4 linked regions of the Homo sapiens genome follow. The protein of the gene in region 2 purifies or fractionates together with the protein of the main gene of each other region. This does not show direct contact. Each region holds a gene or a part of one and is shown on either strand. Other genes may lie near its edges. The genes, in order: MLF1, NLRP12, NUDCD3 and TTC1.

Region 1 (5,417 bases), on a different chromosome or scaffold from region 2:
TAAGTCTTCCAAATAGAGCCCCTCTCCCCTTATCATATCTCTAGATATCTTTACCAGTGTGAAATGTATGACTCTATCTATATCCATATTACAATGTGTTTTACAAGAATAACTACACTACAGGATATCAGTTTTCCTTAAGAGGATTTTGGTCTCTGTCTTCTGAGGCATAGTTTACTAGTGAATTACTAACCATAAAATCCTAAACTATTATTGATTTTTAGATATAAATTTAAATTTGTGTGGAATAATCAGCTTTCATATAAAATTATTACATCTTTCACAAAAGATACTGTGGATACAATTTGGATGATCATCAAAACTTTCTGATAACAGAAGTAAATTACATAACTTTACTTCAAATTCTTCTTAAAAAACCAAACTATTTTAGAAACAACTTTTACCTTCTTTTAAGTTCTCGGGAGCCAGGATTCTCATGGCCAACACTTCTCATTCTAGTGTTTCCTAGATTGTGTCGTCCTGGTTTGTACTTCAAAACCTCACTTTGCCACTCCTCATCAAAAGCATGAGCATCACCTATGTCAAACAGAAAAATAATGGGAATAAGTATTAAGGTATCAACTGTCAGTAACTGCCTTGCTCCCACATATTTCAGTCTAGTCTGGTGTTTTCATTAGTGTAACCTCAATACAGAGGCAGGAAGCTGCTTCAAATATAAGGGTCTTTGACAAAAGTAGTATTTGTTTTCCTGTCTGTTCCTCTCCTATTCCTACTGATGATCTAGTTATTGATGATCTATTTTTTCAACTGCCTGGATAACATATTATTCTACCCAATGGACCAGCTGACCTAATTATATTAACTAACAGTTTTTCTTCCTGGGTCATCTCACAGTGAATATACTCTTCCTGTATAGTGTATACTTCTGTGGCTAGCACTTCTATTCACCTAACCATCTTTCTGTGTAACTTGACCTCACAAGTTTCTGTTGTCAATTTCCTAAGACAGGTTACTCAGCTAGAATGTCAATTCATGTTGTTATGAAGTAATCTAACTTCCATAATAGCAACAATAGAGACATGATAGTACTTCTTAAGACTGCTTTAAAATATTATGTTCCTTCACTCAATTTTTCATCAAAATGTTGATTATTGTGAAATACTCAGTATATATATAAATGTGATAAAATTACAGAGGTTACAAATAAACACAGGTCACAATATCATGGCTTCTATCTTACTGCATAAGAATAATTTTATCAAACCCCAGCCAGGTGTGGTGGCTCACGCCTGTAATCCCGGCACTTTGGGAGGCTGAGGTGGGCGGATCACAAGGTCAGGAGATCAAGACCATCCTGGCTAACATGGTGAAACCACGTCTCTACTAAAAATAGAAAAAATTAGCCAGGCATGGTGGCGGGCACCTGTAGTCCCAGCTACTCAGGAGGCTGTGGCAGGAGAATGGCGTGAACCTGGGAGGCGGAGCTTGCAGTGAGCCGAGATCACACCACTGCACCACTGCACTCCAGCCTGGACAACAGAGCGAGACTCCGTCTCAAAAAAAAAAAAAAAAAAAAGAATAATTTTATCAAACCCCAATGTTAATAGAATTTCTTCCTCCCCTCCACCCAACACAGTCTTGCTCTTTTGCCCAGGCTGGAGTGCAATGCGTGATCTTGGCTCACTGCAACCTCTGCCTTCCGGGTTCAAGAGATTCTCCTGTCTCAGCCTCCCAAGTAGCTGGGATTACAGGCGCGGGCCACCATGCCCAGCTGATTTTTGTATTTTTATTTATTTTATTTATTTATTTTTTTGAGACAGAGTCTCGCTCTGTCGCCCAGGCTGGAGTGCAAGGGCTCGATCTTGGCTCACTGCAACCTCCGCCTCCTGGGTTCAAGCGATTCTCCTGCTTCAGCCCCACGAGTAGCTGGGATTACAGGCACGTGCACCACCATGCCCGGCTAATTTTTGTATTTTTAGTAGAGACGGGGTTTCACCATGTTGGTCAGGCTGGTCTTGAACTCCTGACCTCGTGATCTGCCCGCCTTGGCCTCCCAAAGTGCCAGGATTACAGGCGTGAGTCACTGTGCCGGGCCCTGATTTTTGTATTTTTAGTAGAGATGGGGTTTCACCATGTTGGCCAGGCTGGTCTCGAACTTATGACCCCATGATCTACCTGCCTCGGCCTCTCAAAGTGCTGGGATTACAGGCATGAGCCACCGTGCCCGGCCAGAATTTCTTTTTTAATACAACAATTTAAAATTTAAACACTCTATTATGGAAAAACATTATTCAAAATACTTTCTGAAACTAGGAGATGAATCCAACTAAATTTTAATATAATTTCATTATTGAATTAATACAATTAAATATAAAAGCTTAATATTGATTTAAAAATTAATAAAAATAATTTAAATTTAATGATTAAATTTGTTAATAAATTGTAATATAATTAAAAACTACAGGGAGAAGAGTTAGGACACTAGAAGGATGTAAATGCATTGAAGAATAAATACAAAATCCAGAAAAAGAAAAGATTTACTTGAGAGAGAGAGACATACATGTAATCTAACATATAACAGAAATTAAAATCTTGTCTATACAAAAGCCTAAGTACTACTGAACAGTACAGAATGATTTAAGTAAAAATTATGGCTTATTTACAATAAAACTTTAAGGTAACCACTTAAAATGCTTTTGAAAAATAGCATCATAAGTAACTTTACAATTATAATGGTAAATTAAAATAAGCACAATATAAACTATATAAAAGTAGAATAATAATTTGAGAAAAAAGTGTTTATATATATAAAATGATTAGGAAGAAATACATTAAAATATTACTAGTATTTTGAGTTTGGATTATGGATTATTTTTGTCTTTATACTTTTCAAATGTACTTTCTTGATAATCAGAAAAAATATTTAAAGACACATTTTGCCTAATGATATTACTAAATAACAATTCAAAAGATTCCACTTTCCAAGGATAAAATAAAAATAAGTAATATCCCATATTGCCAAAAATCACTATAAAAAAGAGCTCTCCTATGAAAGGATGAAAACACAATCCTATTACTTTCACAAGGTATTCTCTACATGCATTATTCAAAAACTACATCTTATGACATGTTTCTAAAAAAAAATTCATCAAGTACGGCTGTTATTTTAAATTTATAAGAAAGAATATTATTTTTTTGTGATAACTTACTTTCATTCATATTGATGAACTCCTGGTTGACCTCTTCATCTCCAGTCTTCTTGTTCTTTGACTTTTTAATGACATGAGCTCGGTCATGGATATGATGACCAATAGCCATTTTTTCTAGTCCACTGTCAGAATCTCTCATTGCTTTCCTGGTTTCCTTTATCTGTAAAAATAAAGAAATTTTATTATTATTTAAATATATATAGAATGTATATCTCAGGGCCAGCTTACCTACAGAGATATGGCCATAGATCTATTGCTCTAAAAATAATGTGTGCTCAGTTCCACTATTAACTTGTGGTAAAACTGTGGTAATAAGTCTCTGATATTTCCTGAACTCCTTAAAATGAAAATGTCTACAACAAACAGAACCCATACAATTTAACCTTTTTCCAAATTGTAATCAAATATTAAAACAAAAGTAGCAATTATAGTTTAATGCCTTCAAGACTGTCTTAGATAATGTAATAGAAGGAAGTTTATGGTGGGATTCCTACAAATAAGGGCAACTAATTATTCATCAGTCATATTGATTGGCTTGAATCTCATGATTCCCGACTATCAACTCTATGGAAGTATTATAAGAATATTTCTGATAGCAACTAACATGATTTACTGTGGGACATCTACAATTATATTCTGTTTACATTTAAGTTTGTCACTTTTAGAAAGTTAAAATTAAAATGTCTGAGATTAATTAGCAGAACTATGGCAAAAGCATCATTAAAAGGTTCATCTTTATATGTAAGAACTAAAAAATGTACTACTTCACATTCATTAGATTGGTAAACCTAAATTTTTACTATAAGTACTAACAAGGAAGTAGAGAAATGGAAACTCACAAGCCACAGTTTTGGAAGCCAACAATTTCAATCACTGGGATAGTAGCTTGGAAACGCTAGGTAAAGAGGAAAGTACACATACCCTACAACTCAGCAATACCACTCCTAGACTCTGTATAAGGAGCCATGTATAAAGATGAATTAGTGAAAGATTAGACTCACCTACATATCTATTGACAGAAAATGATTTAAAAATCATGGTACATTCATATTTTGGATATTACATAGAAGTTAAAGAAACCAGGGCCACATGTATCAACTTGAATAAATCTCAGAAGCGTATTAATCATAATATATTCATATTTTGGATACTACATAGAAGTTAAAGAAACCAGGGCCACATGTATCAAGCTGAATAAATCTCAGAAGCATATTACTCAGCAAAGACAAGTTGCAGAGGACATATGCAATATGATACCCTTTATGTAATGTTGGGAAATCTGGAAAATAATCCATTTTTTTAATGACAGAAACGTGAAGTAATAAAATTGTAAAAACATGCGTGAAAATGATAAACTCCAGATACAGGAAAATGGTAATCTCTGAGAAGGGGAGAAAGGGAAAATAGACCTCAGAGGAATGTATTAGAAGGTTTAACTGCCTCTGTACATTTTCGCTTAAAAAGAAAACAAAGCAAGAGACAACTTGAAGCAAATAGAGAAAAATGTTATGATATGACTAAACTGGGTGGCAGGAATATGGGCACTTATTATGTTATTCTCTATATCCTTTCTGTACACTTGAAATATTTCATGAGTTAAAAAATTAATTCACTTCAAATGTAAACTTAAAAATAGACATTAATTTCATGAAACAAAGGCTTCTTTTCGTGTTTTGTTTACCTTGTCAACATGTAAAGGTAATAAACATCCATAGATATTTACATGAAAAAAGGCACCCTCACGGGGGGGTGGGGGGGCTACAAAAAAAATGCCACAAACTAAGTAAATACAGTTGAGCTTTAATGGTTTCCACAGTGAGGACTACCTTACCCCCAACCCCCACACCTCCCTCCTGTCCCCCCACCATCTTGTACCAGATTAAATTTTAATAGTTAAAATTTGATCTAGACAGTCTATCATCCCCTAACTTTATAAAACTTTAGGAATGCTTATAGAAAACTTACTCCTCCTGGAGCTCGACGAGTTTGAGTTGAGGCCTGAAAAACCTTTGGCGGTTCATCTCCTATTTTGGAATAAGTCATAACTGAGGAAGAACAAAATGAATGTCCATTTGGATCCACTGAAAGTTGACCCTACAGGTAAACAAATTGTAAATTCAGTCGAGTCAAATATAAATAATTATTGCCAGAGAGTTCAAATAAGTAACAACACTAGCTGTAAGTTCTACTAAGGATACTAAACTACCAATATGGTGTAGTCAAAGGCACACCCAGGTTCTCAAGTGA
Region 2 (5,417 bases):
TCACTGCTATCCATCTCTGGAACTTTTTTTTTTTTTGAGACGGAGTTTCGTTTTTGTTGTCCAGGCTGGAGTGCAATGACACAGTGTTGGCTCACCACAACCTCCGCCTCCCAAGTTCAAGTGATTCTCCTGCCTCAGCCTCCCGAGTAGTTGGGATTATAGGCATGTGCCACCACGCCTGGCTAATTTTGTATTTTAGTAGAGACGGGGCTTCTCCATGTTGGTCAGGCTGGTCTCGAACTCCAGACCTCAGGTGATCTGCCCACCTCGGCCTCCCAAAGTGCTGGGATTACAGGCGTGAACTACCGCACCCGGCCCATCTCTGGAACTTTTTCATCTTCCGAAATGGAACCTCTGCTCCCGTTAAACGGTAACTCCCCATTTCTTCCTGTTCTAGGCCTTGGCAGCCACTATTCTACTTTGTTTTTTGAGATGGAGTCTCACTCTGTCACCGTGGCTGGAGTGCAGTGACGTGATCTCAGCTCACTGCAACTTCCGCCTCTCAGGTTCAAGTGATCCTCCTGCCTCAGCCCCCTGAGTAGCTGTGATTACAGGCGTGTGCCACCACATCCAGCTAATTTTTGTATCTTTAGTAGAGAGGGGGTTTCACCGTGTTGGCCAGGCTGGTCTCGAACTCCTGACCTCAGATGATCTGCCCTCTTTGGCCTCCCAAAGTGCCGGGATTACAGGCGTGAGCCACTGCGCCCGACCTGTGGATGCATTTTTATACCATCATTCAATATGAAGAGATTTGCCATTTTATTATAGTTGACCCCAGGAAGAACTCACCACAAAGTCCGTAGTCTGCAGACTGGGTGCCTCAGTCCCTGGCATAGTAACCTCAGGCCCAAATCCTCCAGTGCATTTCCTGTCAGGTCCAACTCAACCAGATGTGGGTTGGTGCCGAGCACAGAAGCCATCTCCTGACAAGCCCCGGACTCCAGCTGACACTTCCTCAACCTTGGGAGGAAGGAGAGGTTGAAGGGGACGCCATCTTGCTTTTCTATGTCGTGATCACTCATGCTCCAGCCTGTTATTTTATTATTTAGGAACAGGTTGTTGCTCTGTCACCCAGGGTGAAGTTCAGTGGAGTGATATCAACTCGCTGAAGCCTCGACCTCCAGGCTCCCGTGATCCTCCTGCCTCAGCCTCCTGAGTAACTGGGAATACATGTGTGCACCACCACACCTGCCTAATTTTTTTTGTTTGTTTGTTTTTTGTTTTTTTTGGGTTTTTTTGTTTTTTTTTTTTTTTGAGGTAGAACCTCATTCTGTCACCCAGGCTGGAGTACAGTGGCGTGATCTTGCCTCACCGCAACCTCCACCTCCTGGGTTCAAGTGATTTTCATACCTCAGTCTCGAGTAGCTGGGACTACAGGCTGGGCTACAGGTGTGTGCCACCACGCCCAGCTAAGTTTTGCATTTTTAGTAGAGACGGGGTGTTTCTCCGTGTTGGCCAGGCTGGTCTCGAACTCCTGACCTCAGGTGATCCGCCTGCCTTGGCCTCCCAAAGTGCTGGGATTATAGACGTGAACCACCGCTCCTGGCCCATACCTGGCTAATTAAAAAAAAAAAATTTTTGTAGGTCGAGTGCAGTGGCTCACACCTGTAATTCCAGCACTTTGGGAGGCCAAGGTGGGTGGATCATTTGAGGTCAGGAGTTCAAGACCAGCCTGGCCAACGTGAGGAAACCCCATCTCTACTAAAAATACAAAAAAGTTAGCTGGGTGTGGTGGTGGGTGCCTGTAATCCCAGCTACTTGGGAGCCTGAGGCAGGAGAATCACTTGAACGCAGGAAGTGGGGGTTGCAGTGAGCCGAGATTGTGCCACTGCACCCCAACTTGGGCAACATAGCAAGACCCCGTCTCGGGAGAAAAAAAGAAGAGGTGGGGGATGGCCCCAGGGACTCTTCATCATGTAGAATTGAGTGTGGAGTCAGAGGAGGGCAGAAGCAGGTCTTCCAAAGTGCCTAGAGTCCAGGGCCAGGGTCTTAGGTCATGGGGTTAAGGGCCAGCCCTGATTTAAAGGTGGAGATTTGGGGATTACCAGCATTTTGTGATATTTCATGCCCCAGGAGACAATGAGCTTAAGAAGTTGCTCCCGGGGATAGAGACTCACTGAATCATCTGCAGCCTGCACTGGGGATGCCGCAGGCCCTCGCAAAGCAGCATCATGCCTGGGAATCCAACGCCGTTGCCACTGAGATCCATCCTTGTCAAATTCTTATTGGCTATGAGAGCTGCAGAGAGGTCCTCGCAGGCTGAGCTGGAGATGCGGCACCTCTTCAGCCTGGGGTGGAAAAGAGGAGAAAGGAGCTGGTCATTTCTTTTGCTCCAGTTTTGTGGATTATTTTCTTTTGCTTTTTTTTTTTTTTCTGAGACAGAGTCGCTCTGTCACCCAGGCTGGAGAGCAGTGGCATGATTTTGGCTTACCACAACCTCTGCCTCCTGGGTTGAAGCAATCCTCCTGCCTTGGCCTCCTGAGTAGCTGGGCTTACAGACGTGTGCCACCATGCCTGGCTCATTTTGGTATTTTTAGTAGAGATGGGGTTTCACCATGTTGGCCAGGCTGGTCTTGAACTCCTGGGTCAAGTGATCCTCCCCATCTGGGCCTCCCAAAGTGCTGGAATTACAGGCGTGAGCCATCATACCTGGCCAATATATTTATTTCAAAATATCATGTTATATATGATAAATTTTACCTGTCAAGAAAAGCAACAAGAACAATATAAAATGTTTTGATGCTTTGTAGTCAAATACATTCACAAAGGTTGCCCTTAAAGAAATTCAAGGCCATGTGCGGTGGCTCAAGCCTGTAATCTCAGCACTTTGGGAGGCCGAGGTGGGTGGATCACCTGAGGTCAGGAGTTTATGACCAGCCTGGCCAACACAGTGAAACCCCATTTCTACTATAAACACAAAAATTAGCTGGGTGTGGTGATGCACCCCTGTAATCCCAGCTAATCAGGAGGCTGAGGCAGGAGAATTGCTTGAACTCAGGAGGCGGAGGTTGCAGTGAGTCGAGATCATGTCACTGCACTCCAGCCCAGGCTACAGAGCAATACTATCTCAAAAAATAACATATGAAAAAAATTTGGCTAGGCACAGTGGCTCACACCTGTAATCTCAACAGTTAGGGAGGCTGAGGAAGGAGGATCACTTGAGGCCAGAAGTTTGAGACCAGTATGGGCAGCATGGTGAAACCCCATCTCTCCAAAACATACAAAAATTAGCCTGGTGTGGCTGGGCACGGTGGCTCAGTCTGTAATCCCAGCACTTTGGGAGGCCGAGGTGGGTGGATCACGAGGTTAGAGATTGAGACCATCCTGGCTAATATGGTGAAACCCCGTCTCTACTAAAAATACAAAAAATTAGCTGGGCATGGTGGCACCTGCCTGTAGTCCCAGCTACTCAGGAGGCCGAGGCAGGAGAATCGCTTGAACCCAGGAGGCAGAGGTTGCAGTGAGCCGAGATCACGCTACTGCACTCCAGCCTGGTGACAAAGCAAGACTCCGTCTCAAAAAAAAAAAAAAAAAAAAAAAAAGAAATTAGCCGGGTGTGGTTGCACATGCTTGTTTTCCCAGCTACTCGTGATGCTGGAGCAAGAGGATCGCTTGAGTCCAGGAGTTTGGGGCTGCAGTGAGCCATGATTGTGCCACTGCACTCCAGCCTGGGTGACAGAGCATATCAGTGTCTCAAAAATTTAAAAAAAAAAAAAGTAAAAAAAAGAAAAAAATTTGGAGACCCACACAGCAGGATGACCATGTGAAGACAGAAGGCAGTGATCTGCAGGCCCAGGACAGAGGCCTCAGAAGAACTTAACCTGCCCACTCCTTGTCTTGGACTTCCAGCAGCCCCCCACCTGCCTTGAGAAAATAGATTTATGTGGTGAAGCCACCCAGTCTTTGGCACTTTTTTCCCCCCTGAGATGGAGTCTCACCGTATCACCCAGGCTGGAGTGCAGTGGCACAATCCCGGCTCACTGCAACCTCCGCCTCCCAGGTTCAAGCGATTCTCCTGCCTCAGCCTCCCAAGCAGCTGGGATTACAGGCGCCCGCCACCACACCCTCCTGATTTTTGTATTTTTTGTAGAGATGGCATTTTGCCATGTTGGCCAGGCTGGTCTCAAACTCCTGACCTCAAGTGATCTGCCCGCCTTCACCTGTCAACATACTGGGATTACAGACGTGAGCCACGGCACCTGGCTTTGTGACACTTTTTTATGGCAGCCGTAGCCAACGAATACACCATCCCGTGATAGAACCTTTGTGACTGATCCCCATGAGAGGCCACGGTGGGGACCACCTGAAACGCCCAGACCAGCCTGCACTCACCTCAGGTTCTGAAGTTTGCAGTTGGGGTGTCTGAGTCCTTGACAGAGCAGCTTCACCCCCCGGCTGCCCAGGGCATTTCGGTACAGAGACAGCTCTATCAGGTTTGGATTGGTGCACAGGGCCGCTGCCAGATGTTCACTGTAGGCGTCCAGCAGAACGGTCCTCTCTGGTCTGCTTGAAGGAAAGACAGGCCACTCTCTGGTGTTACTGGTGCTTGACAACTATGGCCTTTGCATGTCATTTCACCGTTTATGAAGCATGCTATCCTTTTTTGAGACGGAGTTTCGCTCTTGTTGCCCAGGCTGGAGTGCAATGGCGCAATCTCAGCTCACCACAACCTCCGCCTCCTGGGTTCAAGCGATTCTCCTGCCTCAGCCTCCAGAGTAGCTGGGATTACAGGCATGAGCCACCACGCCCAGTTAATTTTGTATTTTTAGTAGAGATGGGGTTTCACCGTGTTGGCCAGGCTGATCTCGTACTCCTGACCTCAGGTGATCTGCCCGCCTCAACCTCCTGAAGTGCTGGGATTACAGGCGTGAGCCACCACATCCGGCCAAAGCATGCTATCTTTTCATTTTTTTTTTTAGAGGGCCTTGCCCTGTTGTCTAGGCTGGAGTGCATGGTGAGATCATGGCTCACTGTAGGCTTGACCTCCCAGGCTTAAGCAATCCTCCCACCTCAGCCTACTGAGAAGCTGGGGCTACAGGTGTGCACCATCATGACCAGCTAATTTATTTTATATTTTTAGAGATGGGGATCTCATCATGTTGTCCAGGCTGCACCTGGCTCTATCTGACGCTCCTAATCATTGATAGTTGGTTTACTTGTTTCCCTCTTTATTATCTGTCTCCGTTCTCATTAGGATGCGTGCTCTCTTGGGACCATTGGCTTATTCACACAGTCTTCTGTCTACAGAAGATTGTTGGGTCCACCGATAAAAGGGATATAGAGGCTGGGTGTGGTGGCTCACACCTATAATCCCAGCACTTTGGGAGGCTGAGGCCGAGAGTTTGAGACCAGCCTGGCCAACATGGTGACACCCCATCTCTACTAAAAAAATACAAAAATTAGCTGGGTGTGGTGGC
Region 3 (5,417 bases), on a different chromosome or scaffold from region 2:
GAGAGACCAGAGAGGCCAGGAATCCAGGGGTCAGTACTGACAGCAATAGATAGATAATTTCATTGCAGAAGAGAAGGTGCTTGCTTCAATAAGATGCATAAGCCATCAGTCAGTGTGGAGGGACTAGGGCAAGAAAGTCAGCATTTCCCAGCCTTCGTGGGACAGATGGGACCGGCAGATGCTATGCGGGGCAGGGTGGAGCAGGGATGCAGGGGTTCTGGAGAGGAGAGTTTGCAAGTCAATAACTACAGTGGAGAAGTCAGACCTCCCTTTGGCCAGGTAACCTGAGTGAACACCCCACCCACTGAGGGCTGTGGATGTTGTGTGCCTGCAGGTGGAACACATGTGTGTCCAGCTGGGTGTGCACACATGAGTTAATCAGGAGATGTCAGGGGAGGAAAAAGGCTGTGGAAATGTCCTAGATTAAAGAGGACAGGACCCCCAAGATGCAGGAAGGACTCTGGACTGGACCCTGTTCCGTAAATCATCATAAGTTATTTCCTTGTCCTTAGGAAATAACTCAGGACAAAGGGCCAAGATGAATGCAACCTATTCTTAAATGATTCAGAGAAAATACTATGTTATTATATATTATACATACAGCATACATATAGAGTGAGAGAGCTGTGTACAGACACACAGCTGCTAAACACTTGTATGGGTGTCTTTGTACTTATTCTAGTAACTTTAAGCTTAAAATTCTTTACAAATAAAATGTTAAAAAAAATGAGAAGGCTAATAAGCACATGAGAAGCTTAACGTCATGATTCATTAGGGGAATGCAAGGCAAAACCATGATGAGATGCCCCTAGACACCTCTTAGAAGAGCTGCTAAGAAGGCAGACAGCACCAAGCGCTAAATGAGATGGGGCACCTGGTGCTCTTCTGTGCTACTGGTAGGGGTGCAGCAGAGTGGTCAGTCTGGACAGTAGCTGACATCACGTGACCCAACACACGCATTCCTGGCTACTTACCAAGGAGAATAGAAAGCAGGCAGATCTCTACAGCAGCTCTCTACCTGATTGCAAAACAATGGAAATGCCCACATGTCCACAAACAAGTGTGTGGTCTGCCTGTGCCATGAAGCACAGTGTGGCTGAGCGTCAAGAGTCCCCACACTCAAAGGAGGCAGCAGATACAGGGCTGCACACTGTGTGATTCCACACATGTGACATTCTGGACACGGACATGCTGGATGGCAAAACGAGCATCGGGCTGAGAGGACTGCTGAGAAGGGGAACGGGGCTGCTGGGATGTGGGTTGATTGTAGCAGTAGCTCATGGAGATGTGACCTCAAAAGAGTGATTTTTACTATGTGCATACTATACCTCCACAAACTTGACTTTAAAAAAATAAAATATTCACAGAAAAAAACAAAAACAAATGTAAAACCATCAGACTACTTTATCAGAGGTGTTATTTTTAGATAGAGGTCTTTGAACTCCATCCTAGGAACATTGTACCCATGTCCTCCCAGAACTGCATCTTGCACTGGGTGTCGGAAGACAGCCCTGCAAGACCTGTATGCTCTGTACCATTCAGTGGTTTTTAAGGTTAACTACCAGAAGTCATATCTGAGGCCTCCCAGAAGCATTACTCTAAGGAAAGTAGTTAAATGTGGACAGTGACAGCAGAAACATTTACACATTAAACCAGTTTATAGAACATGAGAATGTTCAGAGCATAAAGAAGCTTGTCAGCTCAATGACTTACGAGGCGTGGGCCATTAAAAAAAAAGGTCTGGAGTTTGGGAAGGAGAAAGGAATGGGGATCTGCAGCTCAGAGTGAGAGATGGAATTCTGTAAAGGAACAGTGTGGAGAGGGACTCCAGGCAAGTCAATAACGATGTTAGAATGCCCTTGTTTAGAATAATTATCATGCTAATAATATTGTTCATATTGTTTTTACTAATATGCTCATCCTTAAAAATAGAAGATATTCTAAGGGTACTAAATAAATAAATAATTAAAATTTTGCAACTGAGACCTTCCTCTTCCAGAGCCTTTACAAGAACCTTTATAGACAACACCTCAGGTCCTGTTTGCTGCCCCAGCATGGAGGGCAGCCCACTTGGTTACAGTGATGACAGATGGAAACTTGACTGGAGCAGGTCTGGAAGGCAGAGGAGGCAGGCCTGTGTGTATATGGTCAGGACAAAGGACCAGTGGTGCTAGCCACACCTGTGGGATGGCTGTAATTAAACACACACACACACACACACACACACACACACACACACAACAGAAGATAACAAGTGTTGGTGAGGGTATGGAGAAACTGGAGCCATTGTATGCCGCTGGTGGGAAGGTAAAGTGGTGCAGCTGCTTTCGAAAATAGTATGGTAGTTCCTCAAAAAGTTAACTGTAGAATTACCATATGACCCAGCACTTCTGGGTAAATATACAGAAGAATTGAAAACAGGGACTCAAACAGATGTATGTACATCAATGTTCATAGCAGCATTATTCACAACAGCCAAAAAGTGGGGGCACCTGAAATGTCCATCAGTTGATGAAACAAAATGTGGTTTATCCATACAGTGGAATATTATTCAACCTTAAAAAGGAATGGAGTTCTGATTCATGCTACAACATAGATGAACATTGAGGAGGACATTATGCCAAGTGAAATAAGCCAGACAAAAACAAACAGATAACTGTATTATTCCATTTGTGTGAAATGTCCAGAACCGGCAAATCTGTAGAGGCAGAATCATTAGTAGTTGCCAGTGGCTTGGTGGGGTTGAGGGAACAATTTAGAGGAAGGGTTAGAGCAAATGGGGAGTGACTGATAATTGGCACAGGGCTTCTTTGTGAGGTAATGAAAGTGTTTTGAAACTAGATAAAGGTGATGGTTGTGCACCATTGTGGATATACTACATGCCATTGGTTCACTTTTGAATGGTAAGTTTTGTGTTAAGTGGATTTTGCCTCCATTAGAAATTGTTCAATATAAAGTCGGCTCACATCTCCTCATAAAATACCACACTGATGCACATGCGTGACGTCTGTGAGTGAGGATGGCCCCCTTGGAGAGCTGCACTGCCCAGCACAGTAGCTGCTAGCCACATGTGGCAGCTGAGTAAACACTTGACAGGTGGCTCACGTGACTGGAGAACTGAATTATTTTATTTTAATTAACTTAAATTTAAAACCTACTTGATTTAGTTACTGGAAAACCTTGAATATTTTTGAAACAACTTGGGCATGTGAATATACCCTTTCAATTGTAAATATTATGAAATCTGAACACAGATGAAGTATTTCTGATGAAAAAGTGCAGTGCTCATCTTAATTTTTGTTGGGTTCAAGTGTACTTCTGTGTCCAAAGTACACTTGTGGACACAGAAGATTTGGGGATGTTCCCCTCCTTCCTGTTGGGCAGGTGGCTCATTGTCTTCAGGTCCATCTCCCACTGTGCCCAGGAGCCCTCCACTCTGGGTGTGTGTTTGGACCTGGCCAGTGAAACCCTGTGTTGGGGTCTGTGGAGTGCCAAAAGGCCTGAGAGCACCAGCACCGTCCCCTGGATGGTATGTAGGCCGACCCCCTGCCCACATGGTGCTGATGGTGGGCTGTCAGCCCCAGTGTAGCTCTGCTTTGCCTCTTCATGCTGGGCAATCTGGAAAAGGCCCTTACTTCCAAGGGTTTGTCCTCATTTTTAAATACAAAAAATGGTATGTATGGTAAATGGTAATGGTATGTGTTTTACAGGACTTGTGAACGCTAATAAAATAAGTTACATGGATCACAGTAATAACTACTGGTGAAGATAAAAAATTCGTAAAGGATCTCTTCTTTCCAGAGATTTACAGTTCTGTGAGTTCCTCTGAAGTCTTCCCTGGAATAGAGAAAACAATGCATTTCCCTCTTGGAAGGTTTTCATTGCATCAGCTTGGTAAAGACGAGGTAGAGTTTGTAGTGTTGGGGTCTCTGAGGGTGAGTCAGGTCCCCGTCACACAAACTGTAAAGTCAACGACAAACCAGCTTAGCAGAGTATCTGGAAATGGAAGATTCATCCCAAATTTAAATTGCACACTGGCAGAGCAGCGTCATTTACTGGGTAGAGCTGGCGTGTAGGGGAGCCACCCACTCCCCCTGTTCACCACTCCCCCTATCTGCATTCGGAATGTCAGACAAGATTTCTGGGATGCTGGCTTCAGATCATGATTGCAGGTTTTTGTCTTGCTCTTCCCAGTTCTGGAAAATCTCCACTGTGTGCTCTCCCGCACCACATCGGTGCCCACCCTCTTCATTAGTAGAACACATTCTCGGACTTGATCCCTGGGCTCTGCAGAGTCTGGTGCTGAGTACCTTCTTTGGTGTGGGTAGGTTTTGGCAGCAGGAGCTTGGAGGTGGGAAGGTGGAAGGTGCAGTGTTAGGACACTGCTCTCTCAAGCCCGTGTATACTGGTGAGTCTCCAGTGCTCCCTCTTGGGGGGACGTGGTGTCCTGTGGACTCACTGTGACCTCTTGAGTGTCACAGTTACCCTGAGTGTGGCTTGGTAGGTTTTGCCCACCTGGTCAGTAAGTGTCCTGGTGGCTGCCACCTCCATGGATGAGAGCTGCTCTCACTTGCGGGCCCTTTGCTACCTTTTCTCCCTTTCTGTGAGCACCTAGTGGTTTAATCCCATCAGAGAGTCCCATCACACTTGGGCATGTGAATGTACCTCTTTCAATTGTAAATATTATGAAATCTAAACACAGATCAAGTATTTCTGTTGAAAAAGTGCAGTGCTCATCTAGGGCAAAGTAGACAAACCCACTCTGTTGCTTCTTGGCCACTCTGGTAAGAATTTTGAGCCCAGCCACTGACCACAGCAGATGCAGCCAGTTTTCTTGTTTTCTGTGTCTGTATGACCACTGATAACAGGGCATGGTGTGGCCAGGGCCCTCCTCTGTGTCCCTGGGACAGGCCAAGCAGCCAGGGTCACCTAGGTACATACAGCACCCCTCACGTTTGCTCTCATACTGCAGTTCCAGTTGTCTTTTAAGTTTTTATGGTAATGACATGAGTCTCACAGACCCCAACACTGAGGGCTGGATCTTAAATGCTGGGTGCTGCTTCCTTTGACCAAGGGATGTCTGTGCCATCCCCACAGAGGTGCCCAAGGAGGCCTCTTTTGGGGTTGTTTCTTGATGGTCGTTTCTCCTTCCCAAGCCATCAGAGAACTTTAGGGAATGGGGCTGGAGGACCCCCTCATGCAGCAAGCTTGGCCCCAGTGAGGAAGAAGTGGGGACAGGGCATGGTGCCCTGTCATGGGGTGAGGACTCCCCAGGAGATTCTGTCATGCATTAGGCTGAGCCCTAAGTCTCATAGGTCCCAGCTTACCCCTAAGATAGCAGAATGTTGGATGTTGCTCTTGGAAGCAAGAGAGATCACTGGAGAGGTAGTTGGTTGATAAGAGCTAAGCAGAGCCTT
Region 4 (5,417 bases), on a different chromosome or scaffold from region 2:
CTTGTCCAAATAGAGAGCTGAGATCTGAACTCTAGTGAATTGGAAGACCACACATTCTGAAATATTTGCTTTCTAGTTTTTCTCTGCTGCAGCTACAACACAAAGAAGAAAAGATAAAACTCAGTGCCATGGCTGCTTTTGCTCAGGAGGTGTCTCTCAGAGCAGAGCTGAACGCCCCTCTTAGCCATGCCCTCCTCTGGCCTCTAACCCCTCACCTGAGCTGCCTCTATACTCCGTCTCTCAACTCATCAGGGTCATTAAAGTTGAGTGTGCATCAGAAACACTTGAGAGGTTAAAACTTAGATTGCTGAGCTCCATCTTAAATCTCTGATTCAGTAGGTCTGGGGTAGGGCCTGATATCATGCCTTTTGGCATGGTTTTGGCAGGTTCTCAGGTGCTGATGTTCTGGGCACCATATCTGAGATGCAGCTCCAAAAGGTTAACTTGCTTTGCAACTGGTGATTAGAATCTTGATGAGAGAGCTTATATTAAAAAATGAATTGTAAACACCCATCTCTAGTGATTAGAGGGCTAAAGCTGCCTGGGTAGGGCTTCCCCGTTAGACAATGTGAAAAGTAGCCCATGCAGCCTAGGTTACTTTTTGGAGAAAGTAGATGACTCTATCTGCTACCTTATAGTTCAATAAGCTGAGATGACAGATCAAGGAAGAACCAAAAATATATACATACAGATTTTATTGACAATTTCACTTGCTTGAAAGACTTCTTGGCTGGGCCAGCATACGGGATAAAATAACTTGCAAATGATGACAGATGTCTTTACCCTATATTCTTTTCTATCTGGAATCAAAGCTTGTTTGGAGACCTGTATCATCATCCCAGTACAAACCTCTTGCCCTCCCAGCATGGCTGCCATAAATAATGACTCATGTGCAAAGAACCAACCCCCAGGAAGGCACTCCTCCCATAAGGTGACACAGCCACACTTCTCAAGGGACTCCTGAGGGCAGAGCAGTAACCCTGGGAGTTTGTCCTAAGTATCTTACAGTTGAGCAGAGGAGCTTCAGGGTAGCTGAAAGTGTCTCGTCAGTTTTACTTTTAAATGTTTTTTTTCCTATTTACCTATGTGAGCAAAAATTTACTACTGTAAAATTGAAACAATGAAATATACCCATAAAGGCTTAGATATACTCATAAAGGCCGTGTCTGCCATATGAAACCTGACTTCAAATCTTTATGTTCCTCAAACTAACCTGATTATTCTGATTATAAATGCTATACCGTACATTTGAATTTATATAAAACGCTACTTTTTTTTTTTCTATATTGTGGTTTCACATGAGATTTTTCTTTTCTTTTTTCTTTCTTTTTTTGTTTTTGAGACAGGGTCTTGGCTCTGTTGCCCAGGCTGGTACCATCGTAACACTGCAAACTTGACCTCCTGGACTAAGGCAATCCACCTCAGCCTCCCAAGTAGCTGGGACCACAGTCTTGTGCTACCACGCCTGGCTAATTTTTAAAGATTTTGCAGAGATGGGGGTCTTGCCATGTTGCCCAGGCTGGTCTCGAACTGCTGGGCTCAAGCAATCCTCCCACCTTGGCCTCCCAAAATGTTAGGATTACAGGCATGAGCTACTGTACCCAGCCAACTTTTTTCCCAGCTATTTAAGAAAACTGTGAAATCATTCCATTAGAGAGAAAGCAAATAAAGCATCAATGACTAGCTCCTCAAAAATGCTCTGAGCCTCCTGGGATGCTATGTCCAGGGTCTCTATTTCCATCTCATCACACTATCAACCACACATACCCTTAAGTCCTTTTAAACCTTACATTCCTTGGTTATTATGGCTGGGAGGCTAATTATCCCAGAGAAAAGGACCAAACAAACAAACAAACAAACAAAAACAACCAACCCCCACTCCAGCTGCTGACCACTTTCCTCAAGTGATCGTCTTGATGCTATCACGATCATCTTCTGTGATCAGCAAGGACTGTGCCACTAGGACTAATGGCCACCCTGGGTCTCTTGTTCTAAAGATTATAAATGATGGGCTAGAAAGGGCAAAGCAAATAATTGTTCTACCCACTAATAATTCCTATCAGGATTTTTTCCCTCAAGGAGTACATAGCTCTTCTTTCTAATGAAAAGGAAATTACAGAGATGGAAGAAAAAACAAGTTAAAGAATACTGAACACATCTAAATAAAAACCCATTTTGTACTACTCAAGGTGATCCACAGATTCAATGTAATCCCTGTCAAAACACCAATGACATTCTTCACAGAAATAGAAAAATCCTAAAATTTGTATGGAACCACAAAAGACTCTGAAAGCTAAAGTGATCCTGAATAAAAAGAACAAAAGCTACAGGCATAGGCATCACACTACCTGATTTTATAATTTTCTTTTTTTTTAAAGACAAGGTCTCACTCTGTCACCCAGGCTTGAGTGCAGTGGCATCATTGTGGCTCACTGAAGTCTCGATCTCCTGGGCTCAAGTGATCCTCCCACAGCAGCCTCCTAAGTAGCTGGGACTACAGGTGCACACCAGCACACCTGGCTAATTTTTTTAGTGACAGGATTTTGCCATGTTGCCCAGGCTGGTCTTGAACTCGGGCTCAGCCTCCCAAATTGCTGGGATTACAGGTGTGAGCCACCACACCCAGCCCACACTACCCAATTTAAAAAATTTTTAACTGCTTATTCTCCATAGAAGCCATCATTTTAACAGGAACTAGCATAAAGATGATGCAGTCCACTGTGAAAAGCTTGCTCAGAACTTCTAAGTGATATTAATTTGCATTCAGAATGTCTAGCCTCTAGGGAATCTCACAGAACATGAACCAAAGTTACCTCATCAGCAACAAGGAGGAAGGAATACCAGAAAAGCTCTTGTGGGGGCTGAAATTCCATGTAAAGAGTGATTTCTCTCTTCTAGGTTATCTATTGTGGGGTAACACCTAGAGCAGTATCTTATTCATGATTTTTATACTCATTAAGGGAAAAAAGGAATCTAGCCATTCAAACTACACATGTGTAACAACACATATTATTTACAAAGCAACTTAAGTTGGTTAAGTCTAATGGCAGGTGAATTCATTTTAGAAGCAACCGAGGGAATGAATTCAATTTGAATTTTTTCAAATGAAGAGAATGACATAAGAAAAACCCAAAGCCTTGGAGACAGAAAATTCTGGTGCATTAGAATTTATAAAGACAAGGACAAATGGAAGTTTTAATTCCATCTGGAACTAACAATAGGCAGTAAGATTCAGTTTGCACCAGTCCCTTTACTGGACTGGCTTTAAAAAAATGGACTAAGAGACCAATGCCTTCCAGATCCACTATGGCCATTCACAAGGTCATCTTTTTTAGCAAGAAATTCAAATACTAAATGCAAACAGTTTTTTTTTTTTTTTTTTTTTTTTTTGCTAAAATAGAGCATCATTGTTAGTAAAAATAGGTGAGAAAATGCTCTTTTCCCTCTTCTTTGAGACAGGGTCATGCTCTGTTGCCCAGTCTGGAGTGTGGTGGCACCATCATAGCTCACTGCAGCCTCTAACCCTTGGGCTCAAGTGATCCTCCCATGTAGCTGGGACTATGGGCAGGCACATGCCACCATGCCTGACTAATTTTTTGTGGAGATGGGGTTTCACCATGTTGCCTAGGCTGGCCTTGAACTCCTGGGCTCAAGCAATCCTCCTACCTTGGCCTCCTAAAGTGCTGGGATTACAGGAGCCACCGTGCCTGGCCAAGTTTAATTAAATATGTAAATTAGGGGAAAAGCTCCCCCATCCCCCTCCCTTTTTTGGAAAATCTGGGGAAGGCTCCAGAGCTATCCTGAATCGGAAGCAGCCGTCTTTACAGTCTGAGTCTACCCGGCAGGGGCCAAAGTCTCTGGATAGTCTAGGTTAATGGCCTCCTCTCAATCAACTTGGCTATCAGAATGATCCTTTGGGAAATTTGTTCCCATTGTCTGGATGCTGATGTCTGAAGGCCATAAATGCCAGACAGGCTCAATTTATTTTAAATGATTTTTCCTTTAGGGCCACATGATTGCAGTTTATAAAATGTAATTCAAACAACAGATTTAGAAAATACTCAAAAAGGAAAATACATGGCAGATCTTCACCAGCGAAATATCAGACAGGTTACATGTGGAAAAGACTTAAGTCTGTGTTCAGGAACCCTCACTCCTCTTACTTAAGCAGATTGCTCGTGGGAGGTTCCAACTCTAAAATGCTTTGGCAAATATGAGAAATAACTAAACATGGATCAAATGAATCCATTTGCCCTACCCCTACCCCCAGTCTGATTTCTCTTTACTCCTAATTCCTGCCCTCTCGTGTGTTCTCAAACACTAAAGGGACTTTGAGTGCCATTTTCTAAATAAAAATTCTCATGATCTTGACTGCATCCTAATGAACCTCAAGGAATGATTATTCAATGAAGAAACTAAACTGTTTTTATGTAATTGTTATCTGAAATCGAGGTTGGTGGTATCCTAGGATTTTAAATCCCATTTAAGCATAATCCCAGGGAACTGAATTATGCTTAAATTCTTGCAGGCAAGAAAAATTTCCAAGAAAATCAAAAAGGAAATCTGGTTTCCAAAAAAAGCCAATACCCTCTCTAAGCCACGCTGCCCCTTCTGGGGTCAAAATAACTCAGAAGTCAGTAGCCTTGTGGTAGAGTCCGAAACTTTCTAACTCATGTGTTCTCCTCTAGTATTCGCTATGTCCCCACCCTAGGTTCCTAGCTGTTTATGATCAAGCAAAGTAAGAAGTAAGCTTACCTAACATCTCTTCTTTTAGTCTTTCATTACGTTCTTCAATTTGCTTAGGTAATCTCTGAGGAAAAGAGGAGAAACAAGGGTTGGTAAAAAAAAAAAAAAAACCAAAACCTTTCCCTTTATTTTGAATTTGAGAAACACAAGAATCCTAATGTGGAAATAAGATCAAGTTAAGTATGTCTATGATCCTATTAAATAAAAAAAAAAAACCCCAAGTATTTATGTTTGTGGTGCGCTACATAAAGACAAAAGTTCTGTTTGGGCCAGGTGCAGTGACTCCTGCCCATATTCCCAGCACTTTTGGAGGCCGAGTTGGGAGGATCGCTTGAGCTCAGGAGTTTGAGACCACCTTGGGCAACATGGCAAAATGCTGTCTCTACAAGAAATACAAAAATTAGCTGGGTGTGTTGGCATGTGTCTGTAGTCGCAGCTACTCAGGAGGCTGAGGTGGGAGGGTTGCTTGAATCTGGGAGGTTGAGGGTGCAGTATGCCATGACTGTGCCACTGCTCTCCAGCCTGGGAGTCAGAGACCCTTTCTCAAAAAAAAAAAAAAAAAAAAGTTTTGTTTGGCTCTGTTTCCAGTTCTTAATAGAAAGTCTACACTAAAGGAGGGCATCAATACAAATTTAACAAATAAATATATACAGAAAAAAGTTTGAAAGGAT

Evidence for each region.
Region 1: the proteins of NLRP12 (region 2) and MLF1 purify together in Homo sapiens (affinity purification with a luminescence readout; one large-scale study listed by IntAct). This does not show direct contact.
Region 3: the proteins of NLRP12 (region 2) and NUDCD3 purify together in Homo sapiens (affinity purification with a luminescence readout; one large-scale study listed by IntAct). This does not show direct contact.
Region 4: the proteins of NLRP12 (region 2) and TTC1 purify together in Homo sapiens (affinity purification with a luminescence readout; one large-scale study listed by IntAct). This does not show direct contact.

What each region holds. Positions count from the first base shown.
Region 1 is NC_000003.12:158,597,927-158,603,343, reverse strand, and holds part of MLF1 (myeloid leukemia factor 1), read right to left. Parts: intron 5,265-5,417; coding exon 5,136-5,264; intron 3,331-5,135; coding exon 3,171-3,330; intron 538-3,170; coding exon 405-537; intron 1-404. UniProt on the Homo sapiens protein: Involved in lineage commitment of primary hemopoietic progenitors by restricting erythroid formation and enhancing myeloid formation.
Region 2 is NC_000019.10:53,803,163-53,808,579, forward strand, and holds part of NLRP12 (NACHT, LRR and PYD domains-containing protein 12), read right to left. Parts: intron 4,507-5,417; coding exon of another isoform or gene 4,504-4,506; coding exon 4,333-4,503; intron 2,289-4,332; coding exon 2,118-2,288; intron 961-2,117; coding exon 790-960; intron 1-789. UniProt on the Homo sapiens protein: Plays an essential role as an potent mitigator of inflammation. Primarily expressed in dendritic cells and macrophages, inhibits both canonical and non-canonical NF-kappa-B and ERK activation pathways.
Region 3 is NC_000007.14:44,392,911-44,398,327, reverse strand, and holds part of NUDCD3 (nudC domain-containing protein 3), read left to right. Parts: intron 1-5,417.
Region 4 is NC_000005.10:160,050,522-160,055,938, reverse strand, and holds part of TTC1 (tetratricopeptide repeat protein 1), read right to left. Parts: intron 4,811-5,417; coding exon 4,756-4,810; intron 1-4,755.